Homo sapiens: one gene and its partners. The protein of the gene in region 1 interacts with the protein of each later gene in a biochemical or structural test. Each region holds a gene or a part of one and is shown in the gene's direction. Other genes may lie near its edges.

Region 1 (3,652 bases):
TTTTTTTATTTTTTTATTTTTTTTATTTTGAGACAGAGTCTTGCTCTGTCACCCAGGCTGAAGTGCAGTGGTGCGATCTCAGCTCACTGCAAGCTCTGCCTCCCAGGTTCACGCCATTCTGCCTCAGCCTCCCAAGTAGCTGGGACTACAGGCGCCTGCCACCATGCCCGGCTAATTTTTTTGTATTTTTAGTAGAGATGGGTTTCACCATGTTAGCCAGGATGGTCTCAATCTCCTGACCTCATGATCCACCCACCTCAGCCTCCCAAAGCGCTGGGATTACAGGTGTGAGCCACCGCGCCCGGCCATTGCCCAGCTAATTTTTGTATTTTTAGTAGAGGTGGGGTTTTACCATGTTAGCCAGGGTGGTCTCGATCTCCTGACCTCAGGTGATCCACCCATCTCAGCCTCTCAAAGTGCTAGGATTACAGACATGAGCCACTGCGCCCAGCCGAAATGTATAACTTTTTAGCATTAGAGTTTCAGTTCTTGTCCAGTTCAATTACTGTATGTTTTACATTGCTTTCTGGATTACATTTATTTTTCAGATATTTAAAATTTTTTATTGAGTTTTAAGGTATAATCTGCTTACTTTTTAAAAAATTACTTTAAATCAAATCTAACATAATGTAAAGGCCATAACTATTTGCACAGGTATTATTTTGAATCCCAAGGTATTTTTTTCCCCCCAGTAGGGAACTAAAACTTTCCTTTTTGTTATTTGAAATAGGATCTTTTTTTTCCAATGAAGAAATATATATATATATATATTTTTTTTTTTCCTTTTTCTTTTTTTTTTTGTGAGACAGAGTCTTGTTCTGTCACCCAGGCTGGAGTGCAATGGTGCAATCTCAGCTCACTACAACCTCTGCCTCGCTAGTTCAAGTGATTCTCCTGCCTCAGCCTTTTGAGTAGCTGGGATTACAGGCGCATGCCACCAGGCCCAGCTAATTTTTGTATTTTTAGTAGAGGTGGGGTTTCACCATGTTGGTCAGGCTGGTCTCGAACCCCTGACCTTGTGATCTGCCCCCTCTCAGCCTCCCAAAGTGCTGGGATTACAGGCGTGAGCCACCACACCTGGCCCCCAATGAAGAAATATATTTAACAGTTGCCTTTTAGGCATATTAAGACCTTTTCCTTCTGAAGACCTATCAGAAATATTTTATGTTAGCAGGGTGACTATTGTACAGTAGAGACATAACCTTGATCATTATTTTCATGTGCCAGCTAAGGAAAAATGTATCCAACTTAGTAGTAAGTCATAGGTCTTCATTCTTTTCTTTCCCATCAGTGAGATTTTATGAGGGTGTGGTGGAACTTTCTCTTACGGCTGCAGAGAAAAAAGATCCTCAAGGTCTTGGGCTTCATTTCTATAAACATGGAGAACCAGAAGAAGACATAGTTGGACTTCAGGCCTTCCAAGAAAGGTGCATTCCATTACGTTAGCAGATTGTCATCTTTATGGATACAGACTTTTCTTTGCATAATGTTTTTTGTTTTTTGTTTTATGTTTTTTTTTTTTTTTTGAGACAGAGTCTTGCTCTGTCACCTGGGCTGGAGTGCAGTCGTGTGATCTTGGCTCACTGCAATCTCTGCCTCCCAGGTTCAAGCTATTCTCGTGCCTCAGCCTCCCATGTAGCTGGGATTACAGGTGCACACCACCACGCCTGGCTAATTTTTGTATTTTTAGTAGAGACAGGGTTTCACCATTTTGGCCAGGCTGGTCTTGAATTCCTAACCTCAAGTGATCCACCCACCTCAGTCTTGCAAAGTGCTAGGATTATAGCCATCAGCCACCGTGTCTGGCCTCTTTGTGTAAAGGTCGACCACCCAAAGTGCTGGGATTACAGGCATGAGCCACCATGTCCAGTAGGATTTCATTTTAAAGGATAATTTTTAAGTATTCCCAAATTTGTTGAGACTGTTAAAAAGGAAATGTGTGTCCTTAAAAGAAATATAGGCCAGGCACAGTGGCTCACGCCTGTAATCCCAGCACTTTGGGAGGCTGAGGTGGGCAGATCATGAGGTCAGGAGTTCGAGACCAGCCTGGCCATCATAGTGAAACCCTGTCTCTACTAAAATACAAAAATTAGCCAGGCGTGGTGGTGCACACCCGTAATCCCAGCAACTTGGGAGGCTGAGGCAGGAGAATTGCTTTAACCCGGGAGGCAGAGGCTGCAGTGAGCTGAGATTGCACCACAGAACTCCAGCCTGGGCGTCAGAGCAGGGCTCCGTCTCGGAACAAAGAAGAAATATATAACCTTTCTATAACATATATATATGGAGGGTGTTTTGTTTTGTTTTTGTTTTTGTTTTTGAGACAAAGCTTCACTCTGTCTCCTGGGCTGGAGTCAGTGGCACCATCATAGCTCACTGTACTCTTGACCTTTTGGGCTCAAGTGATCCAGTGATCCTCCTACCTCAGCCTCCTGAGTAGCTGGGACTACAGGCACATGTCACCACACTCGGCTAATTTTTTTTTTCTCTTTAATTTCTGTAGAGACAGGGCCTCACTATATTGCCCAGGCTGGTCTTTAACTCCTGGGCTCAAGCAATCCTTTCTTCTCAGCCTCCCAAAGTGCTGAGATTAGAGGTGTCAGCCACCACATCTGGCGAAAACATATTTTTTTATTACTATATTTAATGACTTTACCCTTTTAATGTTTAACCAAACACTTCTCAAACTTATTGAAAAAGTATATGGTTTGTATTATTTTAAATGCCAAATATGTACATCTATTCTGCCAAATAGTCTTGAAATCCTTGTATATACTTAGGTAAGGTAAATCAATGGCTTTCTTTTTTGTTATTTGTTTTGTTTTGTTTTTGGGGGGTTTTGTTTTTTGTTTTTGAGACAGGGCCTCATTCTGTTGCCTGAGCTGGAGTGCAGTGGCATGATAATAGCTCACTTGCAGCCTTGAATTCCTAGGCTCAAGCGATCCTCCTGCCTCTGCCTCCCAAGTAGCTGGGATTACAGGTGCACACCGCCACGCCTGGTTAATTTTTTGTTTCGTTTTGTTTTGTTTTTTGTTCGTTTGTTTTTTGAGACAGGGTCTTGCTGTCACCCAGGATGGAGTGCAGTGGCATGATCTCAGCTCACCTCAACCTCTGCCTCCCAGGTTCAAGCAATTCTTGTGCCTCACTCACCTGAATAGCTGGCACTACAGGCATGCACCACCAAGCCCGGCTAATTTTTGTATTTTTGTCAGATACGGGGTTTCACCAGGTTGGCCAGGCTGGTCTCAAATTCGTGACCTCTGGCAGTCCCCCTGCCTTCGTCTCCCAGAGTGCTGGGATTACAGGTGTGAGGCACTGTGCCCAGCCAATTTTTTTGTATTTTTTGTAGAGACGTGGTCCCGCTCTGTTGCCCTGGCTAGTCTTGAACTCCCAGCCTCAAGCCGTCCTCCTACCTTGACTTCCCTATGGCTGGCATTACAGGCGTGAGTCACCACACTTACCATCATTTGCTTTCTAGTTAAATAATGTAATTGTTCCTTTTCCATTTTCTTTCAGATTAAACAGTTACAAATGCATTACAGACACACTTCAAGAACTGGTAAATCAAAGTAAGGCCGCTCCTCAGTCTCCCAGTGTACCCAAAAAACCTGGTCCTCCAGTGTTGTCATCTGATCCAAATATGCTGAGTAATGAA
Region 2 (3,500 bases), on another chromosome or scaffold:
CCTATCCATTCTTCCATATCCAGCTCAAGTACTGTTGGTCTTCTCAACAGCTTTGTTGTAATTCCTCTTCCTGGCTTCTTTCAAGATTACCTTTCTCATCTATCATGACCATGTTTTTCTGAATCAATACTTTGATAAAGGGGTTATCTAATTTATTAATATTTCAAACAGTAGAAAAATCATTTTGTTTAGCAAATCACGTTTATTGAAAAATGGGCTGTTTTAGAATGTCCTATGCCACACGTTTTGAGATTTGTTTATGTTCCTTCAGTTCTTTGTATTTACTTAATCGTCTCATTGTCTTTTCAAATGTGTAAGTTATTTTACCAGTGCATACTTGTAAGTGGCTTAAATGATAAACAGTACTTTTGTAGATTGATTTTTATAGACAGAATTTGATCAAAGTAGATATCATCTGAGATGACACTAGCCATAATTAGGCTTGGGGAACCTGTTTAACGGTTACATTTGTTATGTAAGTACCACAGAAACATGATATGAGCAAGCATTTATTTATACTATGTACTTCTGGAAATTGTAAGACGAAGTTGAGTGAGGTAGAGACAGATTCAGGGTAATCAGCTTGAGTGGTTGTTTGAGATGTCTATTAATTTATGTATTTTTAACATCACAGTTAGAAGGATGCCCTCTGTGAAGTTGTTGTAAGACTTTGTCTCGTAACATTGTTTTTCTCTTCCTGCCTTAGTTGTGAAGCACTGGAGCCTGACATGGACACTATGTGAAGCCCTATGGGGCCACCTGAAGGAGCTTGACAGCCAGCTAAATGAACCCCGTGAATACATTCAAATTCTGGAGCGAAGAAGAGCTTTCTCCCGCTGGCTATCCTGTACTGCCACACCTCAGATTGAAGAGGAAGTCTCCTTAACCCAAAAAAACAGCCCTGTGGAGGCTGTATTCAGCTACCTCACAGGCAAAAGGATCAGTGAGGCCTGCTCTCTGGCCCAGCAGTCAGGTGGGGAAGGCATATGGTCCTTCTCTGCGCCTCTGTCGCCTTCCTACTCACTGCCTCCTACCGCTCCCCGCTAATTGTGCATTTCCCTTTGGCTTCTAGCCTATGAGTATTAATTGCGGACTTCCCAGAAAGATTGCTGGTTCCCGTGGAATATGTAATATAACATAAAATTTAACTTTTAATCAAGTAAACAATGTTTAAGGTCCTAAACAGAGAATTAGAAGACATAGTGCGGCTGGGCTCAGTGGCTCATGCCTGTAATTCCAGCACTGTGGGAGGCCAAGGTGGGTAGATCACACCCACCTATTCCTATAGAATAGGAACCATGACTTTTTTTTTTTTTTTTTTTTTTTTTTGAGACAGTTTCACTCTTGTTGCCCAGGCTGGAGTACAATGGTGCGATCTCGGCTCACTGCAACCTCCTCCTCCTGGGTTCAAGCGATTCTCTTGCCTCAGCCTCCCAAGTAGCTGAGATTACAGGTGCCTGCTACCACACCTGGCTAATTTTTGTATTTTAGTAGAGACAGGGTTTCACCATGTTGGTCAGGCTGGTCTCGAACTCCTGACCTCAGGTGATCCACCCACCTTGGCCTCCCAAAGTGCTGGAATTACAGGTGTGAGCCACTGCACCCAGCCGAACTATGTCTTCTAATTCTTTTTTTAGGACCTTAAACATTGTTTACTTGATTAAAATTTAAATTTTATATTACATTTGTAATAAAACTAGAAAGCATAGATAAGCTATCAATCAAAATCACCCAAATCCTGTGACTACTACTCACTGCAAACATTTTAATGTGCAATTTGTACTTAATTCTTTACTTTGTAATACATACAAATATGTCCAGACACTGTGACATATGCTTGTGAACTTTTCAAAGGTGATATCCTGCTGTGTATTATATTCTGTTCTTTTCATGTGGCACATTACAAATGCCCTGTAATACAGATAATTATCAAATACTTCTTAGCATTCTTTTATGTATAAATGTACCATAGTAGTAAATTTCTTCCTTCACATTGAGACTTTTTTTAAAACTATAAACAGTACTCTGAATTGCTATAAAATATGTTCTATATCAATTCATTCAAATAAATATATAGAAGTTGAATTTCTGGGTTGAGGTACTCACTGGCTTTTTAAAAGGAATTTATATGCATATATTTACTTCTTTAAGTTCCCTTTCACTAATGAGGCAATTCAGCAAGTACTTAATGACTGCCTAGATATAAATCTTTTTTTTTTTTTTTTTTTTTTTTTAAGACAGAGTCTGTCTGTGTGTTTACCAGACTGCTGGAGTGCAGTGGAACGATCTCAGCTCACTGCAACCTTTACTTCCTGGGTTCAAGCGATTCTCCTGCCTCAGCCTCCTGAGTAGCTGGGATTACAGGTGCCTGCCACCATGCCCAGCTAGTTGTCTTTTTTTTTATTTTTAGTAGAGACAGGGTTTCGCCATGTTGGCCAGGGTGGTCTCAAACTCGTGACTTCCAGTGATCCACCCACTTTGGCCTCCCAAGTGCTGGGATTACAGGCATGAGCCACCGTGCCTGGCCATAAAGTCTTGATAAGAATACAGGATGGCATAGTTCAGCTTAATCTAATATGATCAGATCCTTATTCAAACCTTGATTGTTGGAACCTAATTTATCCAAAGCCAACTAATTGGAGCCATCGACTGGATTTATTTTGAAGAGTTTTGCCACTTTTGGGATTATAAGGAACAAATCACAGGAAAAGCCAGAATCAGTAAGCTATATAAAGGGCTTGTTGCATTCCACTGTCACTACACATTTAGCCTGGTAGCTTCCTGTTTTCTTTTCTTTTTATTTTTTAAATAGAGATGGGGTCTGTATGTTGACCAGGCTGGTCTCAAACTCCTGGCGTCAAGCAGCCCTCCTGCCTCAGCCTCCCAAAGTGCTGGGATTAGAGGCGTGAGCCACCACATCCAGCCTCCGTCTGGTACTATTTATGGTCTTTGTGCATTTGTACAGTGAGAATTTATCTTTGGGATTGATCTTGTATGAACTTATTATGAATCATTAAAAAAAGGTTATGCTCACCAGGACACCAACATGTAGTAGGAGAGGATCTTAAGGCATGCCAGAGTCAGATTCTTAGGGCTGTTGATTCATAAACTCCACTTTCTTCCTGTTTATTTTGACTGTAAGGCTAAACCTCTGGTAAAGGTACTGCCTTTTAGGTTACTAAAAGCTTTTGCTTTACTACTCCCCCCCTTTTTTTTTGTTTTTTGTTTTGTTTTTGTTTTTGTTTTCGAGACAGTCTCGCTCTGTACCCCAGGATGGAGTGCAGTGGCATAATCTTGGCTCACTACAACGTTTGCCTCCTGGGTTCAAGCGATTCTCCTGCCTCAGCCTCCTGAGTAGCTGGGATTACAGGTAACGTGCCACCACACTCGGCTAACTTTTGTATATTTAGTAGAGATGCCGTTTCGTCATGTTGGCCAGGCTGGTCTCGAACTCCTGACCTCAGGTGATCCGCCTGCCTCAGCCTTCCAAAGTGCTGGGA
Region 3 (3,500 bases), on another chromosome or scaffold:
GGCAAGCTAGAGAGGAGTCAGGGGACGCTTGGAGTCCCTAGGTGGGAAAGATGTCAGAGACGCAGGAGCTGAGTGGCAAGGCAGGGAGGAGTGGCGCCCAGGCTGGCCGAGTCGCACACTGACCATACTCGGAGGCTTTCCAGGGCAGCAGGTCCGAGGACCTCGCTCCGTGTTCCTTGAGCTCCTTTGCGCCCCCTGCCTTTATCCCACACGTGTCCCGAGCGCCTTGTGCCAGGCCCAGGGACAGAACCAGGCAGGCAGCAAGGACCTGCCCCACACTCCACACAATGCCCCACTGACAAGGAGAGGCCACCCCCAGAGCACGGGGAAGAAGAGAGAGGCAGAGAGAGGCAGTCCCGCAGGCTGAGTGGTGCCCTGGGCCTGGGTGGGCCTGACTGCAGGGCAGGGGTGGGAGGGGTACGCTTTAGCAGTGAGTTTTCTGATGAGTTGAGCTGGAAATGCTGTGTCTGCTTCATGGGGCAGAGTTCTACTGAGTGGGAGGTTCTTTCTGAATTCTCTCCAACTTACAGAAGGCTATAATTTATTAAATATAGTTATTGACTTTCCTTCTTAAATATTTAGAAATGAATCCTGCCCTTCCAAAGGATTGGCAAATCTTAGCTGGGATACAGAGGCATGAGTGTTTAGCATTTTCATTTCAAATTTCAAGACCGTTTATGTATAAACATTTTTAGAGACTAGAATTACTGCTCAGAACGAATTTTGCCCTTTGTCTCCAGGCTGCTTAATCCCCAATTTCTCTTACTCTTTCTACTTCATACATCGATTTCTTTTATTACCTGTCTTCTTCAGCCTGCCAACTTCAGTACTTATTTAGATGATTAGAAGTTTTAACAGTCCTCTGTATGGCTGTGGTCATAGCTGAGGTCTACCAGTAATAAGCCTTATAATGCAACCTAGAAATTACTTCCTGCCCTGAGGTTAACACTGGTTGCATCTTGTTGATTGTGGTCCTAGATACATGTTTTTATTTAAAATGAGGCACTTATGTACATGGTAGTTAATATTGGAACAGTGCCTTGTTTGGGTGGGTCTGCATCATTCCAGTTCTGTGTTAATTTTTAGAAATCACGATACGTAAATGAAGCTACTGGAAATTAATAGAACATGTAGAAGGAGTTACAGGAAATACCAAGAGGTGCCATTGTTCATGTTCCACATCAGATGTTCATTAGAGTGGGCACGGGCAGCCTTTGCATGTTGGATCACACCCAGGCGCCCTTTCTGGGTTTCAGTATCTCTAGAGTTGGACGGGTCTGTGAGAACACCTGTGCTTCATGGCCAGGGGCTGGCTCTCCGTTCTCACGTGGTGCAGAGTGTAGTGAGCTTGCCCGTCAGAGGGGGTGTCTCGAGTGGATGAGGATGTGGGGGGAGCAGGGGCCTCCCAGCCTGGCTCTCAGCACTGCCTTTTCTGTTCACCCTGGGGTCCCTAGAAACACTACTGTACCTTGAAGGCCCCCTGGACCCAGGGAAGCCCAGTGTGCCGGGCACCTCCTCCTCTACAGTGCCAGGGAGGCCCAGAGTGCCGGCACCTCCTCCTCTACAGGCCAGGGAAGCCCAGTGTGCCGGCACCTCCTCTACAGGGAGGAGGCAGGGCTCAGAGAGTGAGAGGAAGTCGCCCAGGTGCGTAAGGGGACAGCTCCTCTGTGGCCGCTGCTGCTGTTATTTACACGCGTGCCTGGATGCTCTGACCTCAGGCCCGCGGACTTTCCCTCTGAGCACATGCTGAGATGCGGTCCGGGGGCGCCAGCCTCAGAATGCCTCCCGCAGGGCTCGGCCCCGAGGCAGCAGATGCCAGAACGCCCTGCGATTTCTCAGGTGGACCAGTCGGCATCTCCAAGGAACAAATTCTCAGAAGCCTCCTTTAGTTCCAGAAATGGGCTTAAAAAAAACCTTGCTTACAAAGGAAATGAAAACTTTGCAAACATTAGAACGTCTCCTTATTTTGTTCCCAAATGATAACACAAGCATTTCCTCTACAGCATAACTTACTGATAATTCTTTAACTTTTGACAAAAAAAAAATTGCCTAGGAAAAATGTTTTCCTCAGTAGCCCTTTAATCATTCCTTACACAATGTAATATGTGAGCAAATCTAAAGGGAGTTGCAGGGTTTCCTCTGGGGCGAGGTGCGCCGTGAGTTTGCTCCTAAGTGAGAAGGCCGGGCTTTCTGTTCTGTAGGAACAGCCTGAGTGTAAGTGTTTGTCAGGAGAAGCGTTTCTTCCTATCCCCAATGGCCAGTCATATGTCTTTGGGGAAATGTCTCTTCAGATCCTTGGCCCACTTTTATACTGGCTGCTTCAGGTTTTGCTGGTGAGTTGCTGGAGTTCCCGCATGTTCTGGATACTGCTCCCTTGTCGGATGAATGGCTTGCACATGTTTCCCCTTCCCACAGGTCGTCTCTTCACTCTGGTGATTCTCTTCCTTTGCTGTGCAGAAGCTTTTTAGTTGAGCAGAGTCCCAGTTGCCTGTTTTCGTTTTTGTTGCCTGTGCTTTTGAGGTCTTAGCCATGGATCTTTCACAATAGCCAAGAGGTCGAATCAACCTCAGTGTCCTTCAGTGGATGAATAGACAGAGAAAATGTGGTGCTGTACACAGTGGAATACCATGCAGCCATCAAAAAGGATAGAACCCTGACATTTGCAGCAACATAGATGGAACTAGAGGCCCTCATGTTAAGTGAACTAAGCCAGGCACAGAAAGACAAACATGGCATTTTCTCATTCATCTGGGGGAGCTAAAAACGTTGCTGTCATGGAGGTAGAGAGTATAATGAAATCTGTTATCTATTCATTATTAACGTTAGCTTCTGGCAAGGGGATTTCTATCTGCCAAACCCCACTAACTAGCATGATTACAACAACATTTTATTCCTTCTCTTTGTTTGCCCATTCATTCAGCAGACATTCCTTGAGTAGCTACTGTGTAGGGGATATAGTGGTGATAAACTATTGTCCTTTTTAGCAAAACACGTTCATTCTACAAGCAAAAAGATGTTAAATATCACAGTAGTTCAAGTCCTTGGAGACTGTTGCTGCTGACTCTTCCTGTGTGGCCTTCTAATCTTTACTCCTGGCTTGTGTTTGCTTTATCCAAGCCCATTCTTTAAAAGGTACATGATCTATAACCTGTTTTTCTAACTTAATGTATCATAAACAAGTGTCCAAGTAATCAGCTAGATCGTTCCCAACCCCCAGAGCATCCCGGTGTGCAATGCCCCTCCGTTCTGTTAACACCAAGGTGTCGGGGAAGCCGCATAGCTCTGCCATGCCTGCTGGGTGCTCGGCCCTGCAGCGGAGGCTTCATGGGCATCAGGCCATCTCCTTATTTCTTAACGTTACATCCCAAGAGTGGAGCTCCAGCATCAAAGGTTAGACAGATTTTGAAGGCCTTTGACATAGATTGCCAAATTGTCCTGCAGAAAGGGTGCCACTAACTGATTTGTGATTCACCCAACAGTGTTCGCCGTTCCTCTAGGCC
Region 4 (4,152 bases), on another chromosome or scaffold:
CACTTGCCTCTTAGAGGCATATCCAGTGAGTCTTTAAAGCCCTACGTTATAGAAAAATGTGAAGTATGTCTAATAAAGGAGTACAGTGGAAGGTTTAAAAGCACATTGCTGATTAGTGGGGTCAGGATGGGAGGAGAGCCCTGATTTTAATGCAGTGTCATAGTCTCATAGGTGATTTCCCCAAAAGCAAATAAATGCTCGATGGATTTTGGGTCCACCATGCATCTCTGAAGTAGAAGTGACAGATTTTCAAGGCTAAGGTAAGTATAGCATTTTCTCAACCCTATTACAATAGAGCACAGGATCATAACTGTTCTGTTTGCTCTGATGCGTCCCGCAGAGCAGTGCTTTTTCTCGGTGTGAACTGTGGATCACTTGTCTCAGTCATCAGGATTCCTGGACCCTGTAGGATTTACTCTCAATCTTTAGGGGTAGAGACTAGGAGCCTACATTTTGAACAAGCATCTTTTTATTTTGATGAAGTTTGCATTATTACTCCTAACAACGTGCCCTTTGGCAGGTAGCTTCCACTTTTCTGGCCTCATTATCTGTAAAATTGCATACTTAGTTATCATTGAGGTCTCAAATGCAGTTCGGGTTCCTGGTTGGTGAACAATTAGATGGGAAGGCTGAAAAAAAAAATACTCCTGAGATTCTGAATCTGTAAGTATGCAATGGGACCTGAGAATCAATCTAATTTCTAAAAGATTCCCAGATAGAACTTTGTTGAGCTATGTTTAGGGACCAGTGCACACCTTGGTGATAGAACCTTTTTGAAACTTTGAAAAAGTTAAAAGGGTTCTGTGTAATGTTACCTAAGAAGCTTATTTTTAAAAAAGGAAAGCAGTGCTTAGGGCCATATTGTTTTGAAATAGGATCTGAGCACCATTTAAATTTTTATAAATTATTTTTTAGAGGCATCACTTCTTTAAAGCCCATCAGATTAATGTGCCATTGGTTTGAAAACCATGACATGAGATGATTTCTTAAGGTTTTATTTGTGTCAGACATGAATTTTAGAGTATTTCTGGGCTATAGGTCATTACAGCTTTACTTATTTATTTTTTGGAGACAGGGTCTCACTCTGTCACCCAGGCTGGAGTGCAGTGTCGTGGTCTTGGGTCACTGCATCCTTGACCTCCCCAGCTCAAGCGATCCTCCCGCCTCAGCCTCCCGAGTAGAAGGTACTACAGGTGTGTGACACCACGCCTGGCTCATTTTTGCATTTTGTGTAGAGAGGGGGTTTTGCCATTTTACCCAGGCTGGTCTCGAACTCCTGAGCTGATCCTCCCACCTCGGCCTCCCAACGTGCTGGGATTACAGGCATTAGCCACTGTGCCCAGCTGGGTATGGATTTCTGAGTGGAGGGAATGTGAACAAAGGAGGGCCCAGGCATGTTTGCAGAGTGGCTGGGGGCCCTGCTTCACCACGGCATAGGGACGGGTGCAGTAGGAAGAAAGGTAGCCTCAAGGCCCCCATAAATAAATTGGTGCATTAAGGAAGGAATATTAATCACATCCAGGAGGGCTCTGCCCTAACTGCTGAGAATCATAAAAGAAATGGGGACATATTCTGGCGAAATAACAGCTTTGTTAATTGAGCTCTTACTGTGTGCCTTTGCACTGTGTTAAGCACATGGTGTTATCACACTTGCTACTCACAACAGCTCTGAGGTTGATAGTACAGGTATCTTCTTTTTATGGAGCAGGACTCTGAGACATCATAATTGCTTGGTATATGCAGCCAGAGTTGGAAATCCTATCTGTCTGATTTTGGAAACTGTGTGCTTACCATTACATATCTTATGTGGAAATAAAATGTATATGATTAATTACAAAGCTGAAAATCGTAGTTGAAGCATCATATAGTGCACAGGGCAAGCAAAGCAGCATAAAAGGCTTCATCTGTAAGGGTAGGTTTGTTGGGTAGGAGCTTTTTGGGGGAGGTGACTTTAGGATCAGTTGTAGCATGAGAGAATATGACACCTTCTTCCTTTAGAGGATCTAAAGGTGTAGCTTTAGAGGATTGTAGGGTGCCTTTGCCCATTGTGTCATTTGGTCCTTCTTAAAATTTGAGTGTTTATTCTCTACATGGCACTCTTTTAAGCCTTTGTGTGAATTAACTCAGTCTTCTCAGCAATCCCCCATTTTTTCATATGTGGAAACTGAGGCATGTTATGATACAAAGCTTGTCCAAGAATTCAGAGCTAGCTTGTCCAAGAATTCAGAGCTAGTAAGTGAGGGAACTGGGATTTGAATTTAAGCAGTCTGTCTCTAGAGTCTGCTCAGCTGGCCTTTTTTTCTTTCTTCTTCTTCTTCTTCTTTTTTTTTTTTTTTGTATAATAGGCCTGTGAGTTGGGAAGAGCAGGGTTTGTTTGGTGAGAAAGTTGCACCTTAGTGAATACCCAAGGTCTGAGGGAGGCTTGGAGCCAGCTCTGCAACCTGGCTCCCTTCTTTCATTAGCTTGACCCAAGCACAGGGAGATGACTGGGGCTCTGCCTTCATCTTCTCTGCAAACGGTCAGGGATACTCATGCAGTTTTTGAGTTTAAGTAGTAAACTCCTAAACTTCAAGTCATGTTTGTATTAGTGATTTCACTTGACCTCAGTACAACTCTGTAAAAGAGGCAGGGATGGATGATGTCATTTGTCAAATGGTAAAACTGAGGCGAAACAACTTGGCATTGTTGGTGTTGTGCGAAGTACATGCATAGGCTTTGGATTTGAGTTTGGCTCTGCCACTAACTTGATCTATGTCTTCAGGCAAGTAACTTAAATGCTCTGAGTGTTGCATTCTCTGTGAAGTGGAAATAGCTGTACTTTGCCCAAGAGTTGTGAGAGTGACATGAATTGCTATATGTGAGGTTCTTAGCATAGTGCCTGGCAAGTAGAAGGTACTCATCTGTGAATGGGGTAGATAGCAGCTGTCTTCATCACTGTCATCATTGTTGGCTCACATCAAATCAGGACCAGAAAACCCTGTTGACTTCTGGGTCTTAAACTGCTGTATCAGTGAGGGGCTTCCTCCTCATACTCATTGCCAGGAGTAGAGTAAGGCTTTTAATTTCATCTCTAACCAACTCTGATAGGGCTGGAAATGTGTATGGAGTTCCAGACCCACCATGGGGCCCCAGTGCTAGCTTCTTAGCCCTCCTTTGTAAGGTTTGCACTAGTTTGATGGGAGAGGGATTTTTTTTGTCTTGATTCTGAAGCTCTTAAAGAAATGCTCCTTTTTCTCCATAACTTGAGGATTTCACAATTGTATTGGAATTATTGGTGTTAAGGAGTTAGGTCCATCTCTTGGCAGCTTGTGAAGGGTGGGCAGGCACCTGTGAATTCTTCACTGGCTTCTTGTAAGAATGACTTTACTGGAGGGTGCTGAGTTTGTGATTATCTCCTCTGCTGCTAGAAAACTCCGTGAACCCTGGTACATATAGCGTGATAAATCAAGTCCTGTTTTTGCTCCTAACTTGCATTATGGTGTTTGATACTATATCTTCATTTCTCCCATGGTAGTAATAACACTGTTGGAAAGAGCTCTCAGTTGGAAGTTGAAGATCCAGGTTCTAGTTGAGGCACCAGAGTTTCCTTGGGCAAGTTGCCATACCTTTTTGGGCCTTGGTTTCCTCATCTCAATAAAATGAGTTTCTGTTCCTTTTTGGTTTGTGTCTTTTTTTCAGTAGGCCTTCTTTTTCATAAACAAAAGCTTATATAGAGCCCCACTGTAGAAACAGAAAAGGTGTATGAAACAGAGTTGCTGTAGTTAATGCAGGCCCAGCAGCTTTACTCTTCCCACTGCCTCCTTGTTGCAAACAGAGATAAACTTTGTGCAGCCCTAGTAACCTCTAAGGTGTTGCCAAGGGATTTGAACACGACTGGTGCAGGTTCATTTCTGTAGCCTCTTAAGTTTCAGGATTTTTTGCTAGCTATTGACAGGTAGTTAACAAAAATCTATAAAACCTGTATACTAAATATACAAGTAGACTAGTGAGTCTTCAAGAATTTTGTGATTATTATCCCTATATGGAGAATCTTTTTAGATTTTTACTGATATAGTTGAGAGATTCTAAGTTTGGTTCAGTCTGTAGTTTTAAAAAAAATGTATAGCAGTAACCAGTAAAGACCGAGTTGGTTTTTGTTTATAGGATAAATAC

Evidence for each region.
Region 2: the proteins of NUP155 (region 1) and NUP98 form a complex in vitro, tested with the Homo sapiens proteins (2 studies listed by BioGRID).
Region 3: the proteins of NUP155 (region 1) and HDAC4 form a complex in vitro, tested with the Homo sapiens proteins (one study listed by BioGRID).
Region 4: the proteins of NUP155 (region 1) and CDC42 form a complex in vitro, tested with the Homo sapiens proteins (one large-scale study listed by BioGRID).

Annotation. Positions count from the first base shown.
Region 1 is NC_000005.10:37,305,072-37,308,723, reverse strand, and holds part of NUP155 (nuclear pore complex protein Nup155), read left to right. Parts: intron 1-1,291; coding exon 1,292-1,427; intron 1,428-3,513; coding exon 3,514-3,652.
Region 2 is NC_000011.10:3,696,555-3,700,054, reverse strand, and holds part of NUP98 (nuclear pore complex protein Nup98-Nup96 isoform 1 precursor), read left to right. Parts: intron 1-706; coding exon 707-973; intron 974-3,500. UniProt on the Homo sapiens protein: Plays a role in the nuclear pore complex (NPC) assembly and/or maintenance. NUP98 and NUP96 are involved in the bidirectional transport across the NPC. May anchor NUP153 and TPR to the NPC.
Region 3 is NC_000002.12:239,135,521-239,139,020, reverse strand, and holds part of HDAC4 (histone deacetylase 4), read left to right. Parts: intron 1-3,500. UniProt on the Homo sapiens protein: Responsible for the deacetylation of lysine residues on the N-terminal part of the core histones (H2A, H2B, H3 and H4).
Region 4 is NC_000001.11:22,097,709-22,101,860, forward strand, and holds the end of CDC42 (cell division control protein 42 homolog isoform 1 precursor), read left to right. Parts: 3' UTR 1-3,652; downstream 3,653-4,152. UniProt on the Homo sapiens protein: Plasma membrane-associated small GTPase which cycles between an active GTP-bound and an inactive GDP-bound state. In active state binds to a variety of effector proteins to regulate cellular responses. Involved in epithelial cell polarization processes.